Linked DNA regions of Homo sapiens: all the other regions are linked to region 3. Evidence: fine-mapped expression QTL. A gene starts in region 3. Each other region holds a variant in brackets. All regions are shown on one strand. Distances are between the middles of the regions.

Region 1 (2,606 bases), 97 kb before region 3:
TCAGTGGGCTGAAATATGTGACCTTGGACCTGGAGAACTGGCCCTGGGCACTCTTACTAAACACACCACAGGCAGGGCCTGCCTTGACAATCATCCCTTCAAGGTGAAGACAACAAGGTCAGGGGCCCACTGGCCCCCCCATACAAAGGGGGAACTGAGGCCTGGAGGGACTGTCAGGCCACTGTACCATTAGGGACAGAGCTTGGACCTGTACTGAGGCATCCCAGGCCAGGGCCAGATCTCTCTCCTGTTTAAGGCCTGTTTGTAGCTTTTGCATCACATGCTCAGATGGAACCATGGTGCTAGCCAAACCAGACTTCCTAGGCCTGCCACTCATGCACTCTGACCCCTGCTCTGACCCTGTTCCTGGCGATCATGAGAACTCTCCAATCTCTACCCCCTATCCATTGCCCTTCCCCACAGATTCAGACTTCTTGTAGCCACATCCTGGAGCCCTATTCAGGTCAGAGTCAGAGTGGCTCTGCCCCTGCCCCCTGGTCTGGGATCACAGGTCATTGCCCTTTGTCAGATGCAGCCATCCAGGTGACCGCTAATGAAATACACGAACCCATTGGAGAAGACATGCACAGCTAATGCCATGCAAATTGGCACAGAGGCAATCAGCCTGACTCTAAAAGCTGCCCCACTGGCCGCAGGCTGGCTCATTGTCTTTTCTGTCAATTTGCATCTCATTACCCAGAAGGCTGTGCTCACTGGAGGTTAAAAGAAAAAAAGCACCAAGCAAGCCCCACTGTGTCCTGCCTCCAGCAAGGGCAAAGCCCACGAGTGGGACAGGGCTGCCTGGAGGACTGCCCCTCAGAGGTACACTCCACAGGGAGCCCCCCATCAGCCCTATCACCCCCATCACCCACCATCAATATTATCCCTGCACCACCAGAATGCTACTCCATTCACCATCATCCCCATCATCACTGTTGTTCCCCCCACTTAACCAGCACCAATGTCCCCATGTTCACTGCCAACATCCTCCCCATCACCATTGCCAATATTACT[CCAT/C]CATCATCAGTGTTACTCCCATCACCATCAGCTCCACCATCACTACCTTCATCCCCATCACCATAGTCATCACTTCCATCATCACCATCTTCATCTACCACCATCAACTCTACTGCCAACATCACTTCCATCACCACCTTTACCATCACTGTCACCACTACGACCATCACCCCACTGTGGTCACCTCTGCTAGTGCTCATGTCTCCTGGTAATCACCACTACCACTGTGCTCACTGCTACCTGCACCATCACCTCTGTATCCCTGAGAAGAGTCTGATGAAGAGACAGAGACAACTCATTCTTCACCTTTCTCTGTCCATCACCCTCCAGCATCATCAGAGGGTTGGGGAACCTGTAAACAAATGACTCAGTGACCAGAGAGCTCATAATCAACCTGGATATTGGTGCTTGTATCTAGGTACCTTGACCTAGGTGCTTGATCTAGGTATCTGTGACCTTGGACATGGAGAACTGGCCCTGGGCACTCTTACTAAACACACCACAGGCAGGGTCTGCCTTGATGATCATCCCTTCAAGGTGAAGACAACGAGGTCAGGGGCCCACTGGCCCCCCTATACAAAGGGGGAGCTGAGGCCTGGAAGGACTGTCAGGCCACTGTACCATTAGGGACAGAGCCTGGACCTGTACTGAGGCATCACAGGTCAGGGCCAGATCTCTCTCCTGTTTAAGGCCTGTTTGTGGCTTTTGCATCACATGCTCAGATGGAACCATGGTGCTGGCCAAATTAGACTTCCTAGGCCTGCCACTCGTGGGCTCTGACCCCTGCTCTGACCCTGTTCCTGGCGATCATGAGGGCTTCAGGAGGAAAGCCCTCAAGGCCAGGGGGTGGAATGGGTGCTTGTCCACTCTACCAGGGCCCCTGAAGAGACTGGGGCTTAGCTTACTCTCCTGGTTCTAGTAGGACCTGGGACTGGGCAGACAGTGACCAGCAGCCACAGTACCCCATGGGGCAGAGCCAGGAGCTGCATGTGTAATGCACAGAACTGATACCATTCTCTGAATCCTGATAACCTCCTCCCTAACACGGGGCTTCTACTAGTCCCAGCCTCATAAGACTGTGAGGATGAAGGCAGACATGAGAGGAGAACAGTGAGCATCCAAGGCTGTCTCAAAGGGCACATAAACCCTATGGGAGAGGAGTATGGTTAGGCTAAGCCAGGTGGGCTTTGGGAAAGGGAGCACCAGGCAAAACTTGAAGGGCAAGGTCAGATGAAGGGGATAAGGGAAGTAATGCCCAGAGGGCAAAGATGTGGGGGTAGGAAGGAGGGCAGTGGAGGCCAGGGGAGCTGATTTAGGCCTTCGATTCTCCTGGGCCTCCCTGGACTCAGGGATTGGTGCGGTAGGTGTTTGTGCTTATGAACATGGCCCAGCCTCTTCCACAGGACCTCATTTCATTATCTGCACCTTGCTTCACACACATGCTTCCAAAAAGCCCCAAGAAGCCCAATCATTATTCCCATTCCCCCGACGAGGTCACCAAGGCTCAGAGAGGGTGACTCACCCACCCAAGACCACACAATGATCAAATGGCAGAGCTCAAACTGAATCCAGCTTTGTCCATGCCAGGG
Region 2 (2,606 bases), 91 kb before region 3:
GCCTGAGATGGTCACACCTGTGTGACCAGGACTCCCAGCACTGCCAGCAGCCTCTGCCTGTGGCCCCTGGGAAAGAACGAATGGGGCTCTGAGGCTTGGGGAGGAGCAACATGCCCAGGGTCACACTACAGTCCAGGTGCCAGCTCCCAGACCCTGCTCCTAGCAAAGGTGCATGGGCTGAGGGGCACCATCCTGGAAATCCCCCCACAACCCCCAAACACCTTCCCATGGCAAGCCACGCTGGGCTTCTCCTCTGGTTAGAACACAAAACACTGGGTAGGTCTCCCTTGACTTCCAGGAGGCTCAGGGTGAGCCCATGGGCTCAGCTAGAGCAAGTGCCTAGTCTGCAGGCTGCTCACCTCGGCCTCTGCCCCGTCATTGTTACTCATATTCTGCAATTTTACTGGATGTGCTTTTGAGAAGAGCTAATTAATACTTTGCCAAATGAGTTGGGGAATCAACCAAATTAAGCTATCTCTGCCCACAACCCCCACATCTGGGCAGGGTGGGTTGCCCTGTGAGGCTAGGCTGGCTGTGGGCCCTGCTCTGAGCCACCACCCCAATGGTGGGCAGGCCAGCATCTGGCAGGCGCAGCCGTCTCCCTGGAAAACGAGACATTTCTTATTGAGATAACGAATCGCTCCATTTAGATCCAAATTAACCTCCCCCAATTACCCCATTTTCTACCACATTTCACCAGATCGAAATCCCCTTCTGCCTGCACAGTCACGTGCTGAGCCCCTCCTTGCTCCCAGGTCTCGTGCATCCCAAAGCCATGGGCACTCAACAGCCCTAGGCGGCCAGCAGGCGCCTTCCCTCATTGGCCATGTTTTTCTTTTCTTTTTTTTGCAGGGGGTGGGGAGGGAGAGGATAGGGGTGGGGGAGGCTTGATGCAGCTGCTGCTCTGAGGAGTGGGAATTTCTATTTTATTTTTTTAGCTCGTTCTTTGAAATAAGGATGCAATATGGGATCAATTTTTGATGACAGTGAAGTAAAAGGGGAAAACAGTAGCAATTTTCTTTTCTGAACATGCCCTATTTAATGGAAGGATGTCACCGTGGAGTTTTATCTGGAGGGGAGAGGGCCTGGTTGTCAGGGACTCATGGTCAGAGA[T/C]GTCTGGCACCATCTCAGCCTGGGGGGGTGCTGGGCACCCCCTCCCTGGTCTCCCGGTGCCCTCTATTAGGGTGACTGCCAGGGCCCAGGACTTGGGACAGGGAGAGGCCGAGTCTCCATCTTCCCTCACCTGGCACGAGGGTGGACCCTCCCCACCTTGTGCTCTGCTGGTCTCAGGCTGCATGAGGAGTCTAGAGCTAGGGCCCCAGGGGATCAGTGTGAATTAGGGTTATAAAATCCCACCCAGCTGCTGCTGCCGCTGCCACCTCTGTGTTAAACCTAGGAAGCGGAGCTGGTTGGGGTAGGGGGGTGGTGGTGGAGCATGAGGAGGGGGAAGGGAGAGGCCTGAATCCTGAGCTGGCCAGGACTGGGGGCAGTCAGGGTATCTGGTGCCTTGTCTCAGGGCTCAGGAAGGAGAGATGGGGGTAAGAATAGGGCAGAAGTGAGGGTGTTCCTCAGTGGGGGTGGTTTTCAGAGAATACTGCAGGGGGAACTGTTGCCTCTTCTACCAACTCTCTCCAACCCCTGACCCTCAGCCCTGGGTCAGAGACCATTAACTGGAATTGGGCCATGGCTGTGTGGAGTCAGGAGGCCTCTGGACCAAGCACTGCGGGACTCTTGAGGCCTCTGCTGGGAGGGTGGGATGCTTCCCCGTTGTAAGTTGCCCCAAGTGAGGTTGAGGTCCCTAGGCTGGCTGAGCATGGTGGCTCACCCCTGTAATCCCAGCACTTTGGGAGGCTGAGGTGGGTGGATCACTTGAGGCCAGGAGTTCGAGACCAGACTGGCCAACATGGCGAAACCCCAACTCTACTAAAAATACATAAATTAGCCGGGTGTGGTGACGCACGCCTGTAATCCCAGTTACTTGGGAGGATGAGGCAGGAGAGTCACTTGACTTTGGGAGGCAGAGGTTGCAGTGAGCCGAGACCGTGCCACTGCATTCTAACTTGGGTGACAGATTGAGACTCCGTCTCAAAAAATAAATAAATAAAAGGCTCCTCAGCTGCATGAAGCAGAAGCCAGGGTTTCGGTTGCCAGGGCCCCATTTCCCCCATGAAACCCACCCCCCTAGTCAGTTTGCCATGCAGCCCCCTTGAAACCTGGGACATCCCTAAAGTAGCTGAGCCAGTCTTGGCCCATTCCTTCTGATGTCTAGTGCCCTCTGGCCATCTGTCTTCCAAAGCCTCCTTTACCTTGCAGTGCAGGGACAGAAATGAGTTAGATAGAACCATACCTCTGAGGCCCATGCAGCACAGCTACAGACATCTCATTCACAGATGCATGCAGTCACGCCAGGCAGCTCTGGACCCGCAAAAACAGCACACAGTCATGCCCAACCCCCACAGGCCCACACAGAGCCCAAGGTTAGAGAGCCACCGAGCCACATACCCGCACCGTGCAAGCGTGGCCAAGCCCAGGTATGGTCCTTACAGTGAACAGCTCTGCCTTCACACAGGGAGAAAACCACTGGGGTCTCTGCAGTCTTCTCATCC
Region 3 (2,606 bases):
ACCATTCACCTTCTGCCCGGACCCCAACGCCTTCACCTCCCAACTGGGCTCTCCAGGGTACTCTCTCCTCAGGTGGAGGGGGGCCAAGAACAGGGGACACTGCCTCTGTGGCACTGGCCACAGCAAGAAGGTGCTCGCATCATCAGCATACAGCTCCCCACTAAAGGAAAAGGCCCTTGAAGGCAGGTGTGGAGATGTCCCTCACCTCTGGCTGTAAAGCGCCGGATTCCCACCAGGGAGGGAACGTGGGGCAGATGCGCGGCTCCAACTCCGCCGGACAGGGGTCGCTGGCCGCCCCTCTCACCCAACCCGGGTTTCCCTCTCACCGGGTCAGCGGCAGGGGAATCAGCTGACAAGCTCGGACCGCCCCCCCCCAACTCCTCCCGGGGCTTGAAGATCTTGCCTTGCCTCATTCGGGGGATTTGGGGGAAGCAGGGGCACCGCGGGGAAGTTTCGCGACGCAGCCAGAGCGCCGGGACCGCGGCTGCCAGCCTTCGGGGCTTGGGGCCGTCGCCCCCGGGCGCAGCGGGCAGCCGGACCCAGCGCCTCTGCCCTGGCGCGGAGCGCAGGGAAGGAGTAGCGCGGACCGGGGGCAGAGCGGGGCGCAAGGCTCGGCCGGGGTCTCGCGGCCGGCCGAGGCCACTTACGTGTGCTGCTGGGGGAAGCTGTAGGCAGAGGCGCCGGGGGCGGCGAGCAGCGGTAGAAGCGGCAGCAGCAGCCACAGCGGGCGCGGGGGCCCGGACGTCGGGCGCCGGGTGCCGGGGCCAGGGTGGGGGCCGCAGCCGGGCCAGGGGCGCGCAGTCCGCGCTGGGCCGGGCCGAGAGGCGCCGCAGGTCCGAGCCGGCACCGCCATGTTTCCATTCAAGATGCGGCGCCGCGGGGAGGGGGGGCAGTGGCGGCGGCGGCGGCGGCGGCGGGGTTGGGGGGGCGCGGGCGGCGGGCGGTAACTCGGCCTCTCCTCCGCCGCCGCCTTCTCCGCGAGGGGCCTCCGGGGCTGCACGGGCCGCAGCGCCTCTGCGGGCTGCGCGCTGCTATCTCCCTGCAGCGCTGGCTCCAAGCGCTCTGAGCGCCCGGCCCGGGACCTGCGCTCAAATAGCAGCCGCCGCCAACCTGCCGGCACCGCCCTCTTCTCTCCCTCCCTCCCTCTCTCTTCCCGGGCTGGCCCGCCCCCGCGCGCCCCCGCCGCGGCCACGCGCCCACCCGTGCCCGCGCGCCTCTCGTCCCCGCGCAGCCCGAATCCTGCCCTACTGGCTCGGGCGTCCTGCGCCCCAGCTGCTACCCGAGCGCCCCGGGTGCGCCCCCGCCCCCACACCTCAGACCCTGCCGCTCCTCCCCACCCCACCCGCGGGAAGAGTCCCGGGCCCCGCGGCCCAAGGCAGGAGCATATGTGACCCTTTTGGGGGCTCGACCTTCAACAGGCTTAAGGCCTAGAGTCACAGGTTTAATGGTGGAGTGACAGCTTCAGCGGAGACCAGAAAAGGAGGCATGCTGAACTTACAGCCCCCGTGGCTCTAGCTATCTTTAAGATTTCTCTCTGTCGGGGGCTTGCACGCCCGGCTGCTGGCAGAAAGGGCCTGGACCTCCTGGTTCCCTAAGCGGAAACCTGGGCACGGCTGTACGGTTGTGGGGGGCTGGGGACGGCAGGATGCAGCCCTCTGCAGCCACTCGCTTCGCTTCCCTGGGCTGAACAGGCACTGTGTGCAGGCCTGTCCCAAGCCCCAGTTCCCGGAGTTTGCACAGCCTCTGTTTAGATTCTTCCAGAGCCAGGAAGCTCATCTCTGCACAACCCAGTCCTTTCTGTCCTGGAGGCCCCTGGCTCTTCCCTGCTGTGGGCAGAAGACTGGGGCTGGTGTCAACCTTGACTCCACAGCTTGTGGCCCTTTCAGAGCCTCAGTGTCCTCGCTTGTGAATGCTTGTGTGGGTGCCCACTCCCATTTCCAGGATGAAGTGAGAATGGGGAGAATCTCTTGGTAAACTGAAGCATTCACAATGAGGGGAGACCATCCCTAGGATTCTACTGAAGTTACCCTGGAACCCAGCTCTGCCTCTGGTGCAGATAGGATGAGAGAATGCTCCCCACCAACTTGACACAGGGCAGGACCCCCTCAGCAATAACTGCCCACAGACCTGGCCTATCACGAGGAATGAGGGATAGTAACCAGCTGGGCAGGATGGTTCGGAAATGTCCAGATGCCCCACCTCATGGTATCAGTGGCTCTCCTATCACCCACTCACAAGTCAGCCCAAGGAGGGCTTGCAGTTGAAAGGGAATAGTAGCCCCTGGACTGAAAAGGGTAGGGGTAGGGGCTGGAAATAGGGCCTAGGACAGCCTTCCCTTGCTGCCTAGTCCTGCCTTGGCTTCTCCAATCCCAGCAAACCAGGGCTTGACAGGGAACAGTTTCCTTCATTTCTTGAAGTGTCCTCCTCCCTTGACCTGAATGAGCCTTCAGGGGCCAGACAGGTTTGCCAGCAGATCCCAAACCATGAGACCCCAAAAAAAGTATCAGAGGAAGGCAACGCAGGGGCCAGGGGCCTGGTGGACAGGTGGGACCTGATGGACTATGGGAGACGATAGTCCAGCTCTTTGGGGGGACAAGCAGGGTCCT
Region 4 (2,606 bases), 53 kb before region 3:
TGGGACTAGGGGGTGACTGTGGATTTTAGGCATGGGGAAGGCAGAAAGGGCATAAAAGGGCAGACCCAGCCTCAGAAGCCATACAAAAACAAGCCCAGCCAAGAAGGCCCAAATCAAGGCCAGGGATGAAAATAGTGTCAGCCTGAAAGGACACCATTAAGAAGGGTCTTAAAGCGTGGCCCTGTGATGCCTCCGCCACACCACACTCAGAATGACCTTGAGGCCATGAAGAGAGGGTGGCCTGGGGCGGGGGGAGCCTGTACTCCCAGGACTGCCCACCACACTCCCCATCAGAGACACAGGCATTCAGCCCGGGCCCTAGGGACTGAGTAGGTGGGAGAGAGACCTAGGGCTGGGTTCTGGGGCTTCACCCATGAAGTGGAGCTGCTTCTCCCACACAATGACAGGACTGTCACCACCCAAGCTCACAAGGGCTGTGGAGGGGACATAGTGGGAGGTGAGGCTCCATGTGAGGAGGGGTCCATGGAGCCTGACTCAAAGCAAACTGCAGCCTCCAGAGTTTGTGAGCCCCAAGCCACAGAAGGGGGCAAGCTAAAGGTGGCCCCCAGGTCTCAACCAGTCCTCTCAGTGGAGACTTAGGCCAACCTGAAAGCCCAATATTCTTGATTTGCCCCCAAAATCACTATACAGCCCCACCTTCCATGCACACAGGACATCTAAAATGGGGCAGGATTCACACATTCTTTTGACAGCGGATCGGCCTGGCTCCCTTTGAGGGCCCTCGGGTCAGGTGAGGCAGTCCCTGACCCAGTTCCTGTGTGGGCTTCCTGTGCAAATGGGCCCCAAGCCCCACCTACCCCCGCACCGCCTCCCCTACCCTGCCCCCGCCCCGTGTAAACAGAACCCGCCACTCTCTCCCAGGAGCTGCTAATTCCTCGCCAGAACTGCTCGGACGTGAAATTGGAGTGAGACAATGTGTGTTTAAGGAAATGAATCTCGAATCTTAAGAGGCTCTGGAGCCCGCCCTGCACCCCCATCACCCTGCTCTCGCCCACCAGAGCCAGGAAAGGAGCACTTGGCATCAGAGAAGAGAAAGGCGGAGGTGACATTCAGCGCCAAATTAGCAGCCGCCACAGCCAAATATTGTACTTGCCTCCAAT[CT/C]TCTTTTATTTTTCCAAAGAAAAGGCTTTTACAGAGTGAAAGAGGCTGTTGGAACACTGAGGCTGATGATCGTTTGTAAAAGGCAGGCCTGCTGCGCGCATGCCTGACTCAGAGCCTTCCCTTCCCATCGGCAGGCCTCCCCTCCCTGCCCACAGTCACATCCGCAAGACGCCCGCCGACGTCACACCCCACCGCACCAGCCACACTGGCCGATGTCACGGGTGTCCTTAGCCAACAAGACCCAGGGGCTCTGACCCTGTGCCAGTCCTGGACATGGGACCTGCCTCTGAGCTGTCTCCCCGCCTACATGGGGCCCTTGGAAATGAGGACTCATTTGTGGTGTGTACAAAACCACTGTGCCTACAGAGGCCTCAAAAGTGACCAGTCCATGACCTCTGTAGGGGCTCCTCATCCACCCCAATGGCCCTTAGTGCCCCCTCCATGGACAGCCACCCTGCCTCTGCCATCATCACTTTTATCCCTCCCACCAGGGGCTGTTTTTTTTTGAGACGGAGTTTCACTTTTGTTGCCCAGGCTGGAGTGCAATGGCGCGATCTCGGCTCATTGCAACCTCTGCCCCCTGGGTTCAAGCGATTCCCCTGCCTCAGCCTCCCGAGTACCTGGGATTACAGGTGTGCGCCACCATGCCCAGCTAATTTTTTGTATTTTTAGTAAAGATGGGTTTCACCATATTGGCCAGGCTGGTCTTGAACTCCTGACCTCAGGTGATCTGCCCACCTCGGCCTCCCAAAGTGCTGGGATTACAGGCATGAGTCAACACGCACGGCCCAGGGGCTGTTTTAAGGCCCCTCCCCAGGCTGCCTGACACTTTGTTGAACACTACCAGTCATCCTGAAGTTCAGGCCCCTGAACCCAGCCTACCTCCATCCACGCTAATTAACCCACTGAGCAGGCTGAGCAGATACCCTCTGCATGCCCCTCCACTATTTTCATCCCTGGCCCCTTGACCAAGTGCTTGGACAACTTCCATGGGTTTTATCGATGGTACAGACTTAGCCCATGTCTCCCATTTCCTCAAACCTGGCTGCCAGGGGCCTGTCCAGTGAGAGGATGGGGAGCCTGCTGAGAGGCCCCCTAGTTCCCACCTGGATGGTGACTGGAACCTGGCCCTGTCCCACAGGTGCACCCTTCAAGCTCACACTGTGTCTCAGAGCCCACCTCAGACCCCACTCCTAACCAACCCCAGGAGGTGGAGGCGTGGCAATGGTCCATTTTGCAGGTGGGATACTGGGTTCAGAGAGTTCTTGTGACTCACCCGAGGCCTCAGCGCTGGCAAGAGGCATAACCAGAACCTGGGTCCAAGCTGCACAAGTCTCATGATGTGGATGCTGGGCTGCATCACCCAGATTACCCCTTCGGCACGAGGCCCTCATCCCCTCACTGCCAAGGGTGTTGCCTGCTGACTCCTCTCATCCGAGTCCCTCCCCAGGCTGTACCCCGAGCAGATGTGGCTCCACTGCCTG

Direction of the effects. Positions count from the first base shown, and alleles are read on the strand shown. Sizes are in standard deviations (SD) of each study's normalised expression. Not every link is listed here.
For the expression in CD4 T cells of the gene that starts at base 1,064 in region 3, allele C in region 2 goes with a lower level than allele T (large effect, 0.85 SD a copy in BLUEPRINT).

The links. PIP is the estimated chance that this variant, and not a neighbour inherited with it, causes the effect.
Region 1: its variant is the best candidate, but not a certain one, in a credible set for the expression of CACNA2D2 in cerebellum (GTEx, PIP 0.78).
Region 2: its variant is the best candidate, but not a certain one, in a credible set for the expression of CACNA2D2 in CD4 T cells (BLUEPRINT, PIP 0.68).
Region 4: its variant is the best candidate, but not a certain one, in a credible set for the expression of CACNA2D2 in whole blood (TOPMed, PIP 0.83).

Annotation. Positions count from the first base shown.
Region 1 is chr3:50,405,599-50,408,204 of GRCh38, forward strand. All of the region lies in intron 3 of CACNA2D2 (calcium voltage-gated channel auxiliary subunit alpha2delta 2), which reads right to left. Among named protein-coding and RNA genes, the nearest start is that of TMEM115, 47 kb to the left of the region's middle. The variant CCAT/C (reference allele first, on the strand shown) is at 1,015.
Region 2 is chr3:50,411,760-50,414,365 of GRCh38, forward strand. All of the region lies in intron 3 of CACNA2D2 (calcium voltage-gated channel auxiliary subunit alpha2delta 2), which reads right to left. Among named protein-coding and RNA genes, the nearest start is that of TMEM115, 54 kb to the left of the region's middle. RefSeq lists an enhancer at 153-652. The variant T/C (reference allele first, on the strand shown) is at 1,114.
Region 3 is chr3:50,502,571-50,505,176 of GRCh38, forward strand. It overlaps CACNA2D2 (calcium voltage-gated channel auxiliary subunit alpha2delta 2), which reads right to left and starts at 1,064. Exons shown (of 38, transcript NM_006030.4): 1 at 648-1,064. The coding sequence starts at 853. RefSeq lists enhancers at 1,175-1,683, 1,684-2,192.
Region 4 is chr3:50,449,515-50,452,120 of GRCh38, forward strand. The region is part of intron 2 of CACNA2D2 (calcium voltage-gated channel auxiliary subunit alpha2delta 2); the gene reads right to left. Among named protein-coding and RNA genes, the nearest start is that of CACNA2D2, 53 kb to the right of the region's middle. The variant CT/C (reference allele first, on the strand shown) is at 1,122.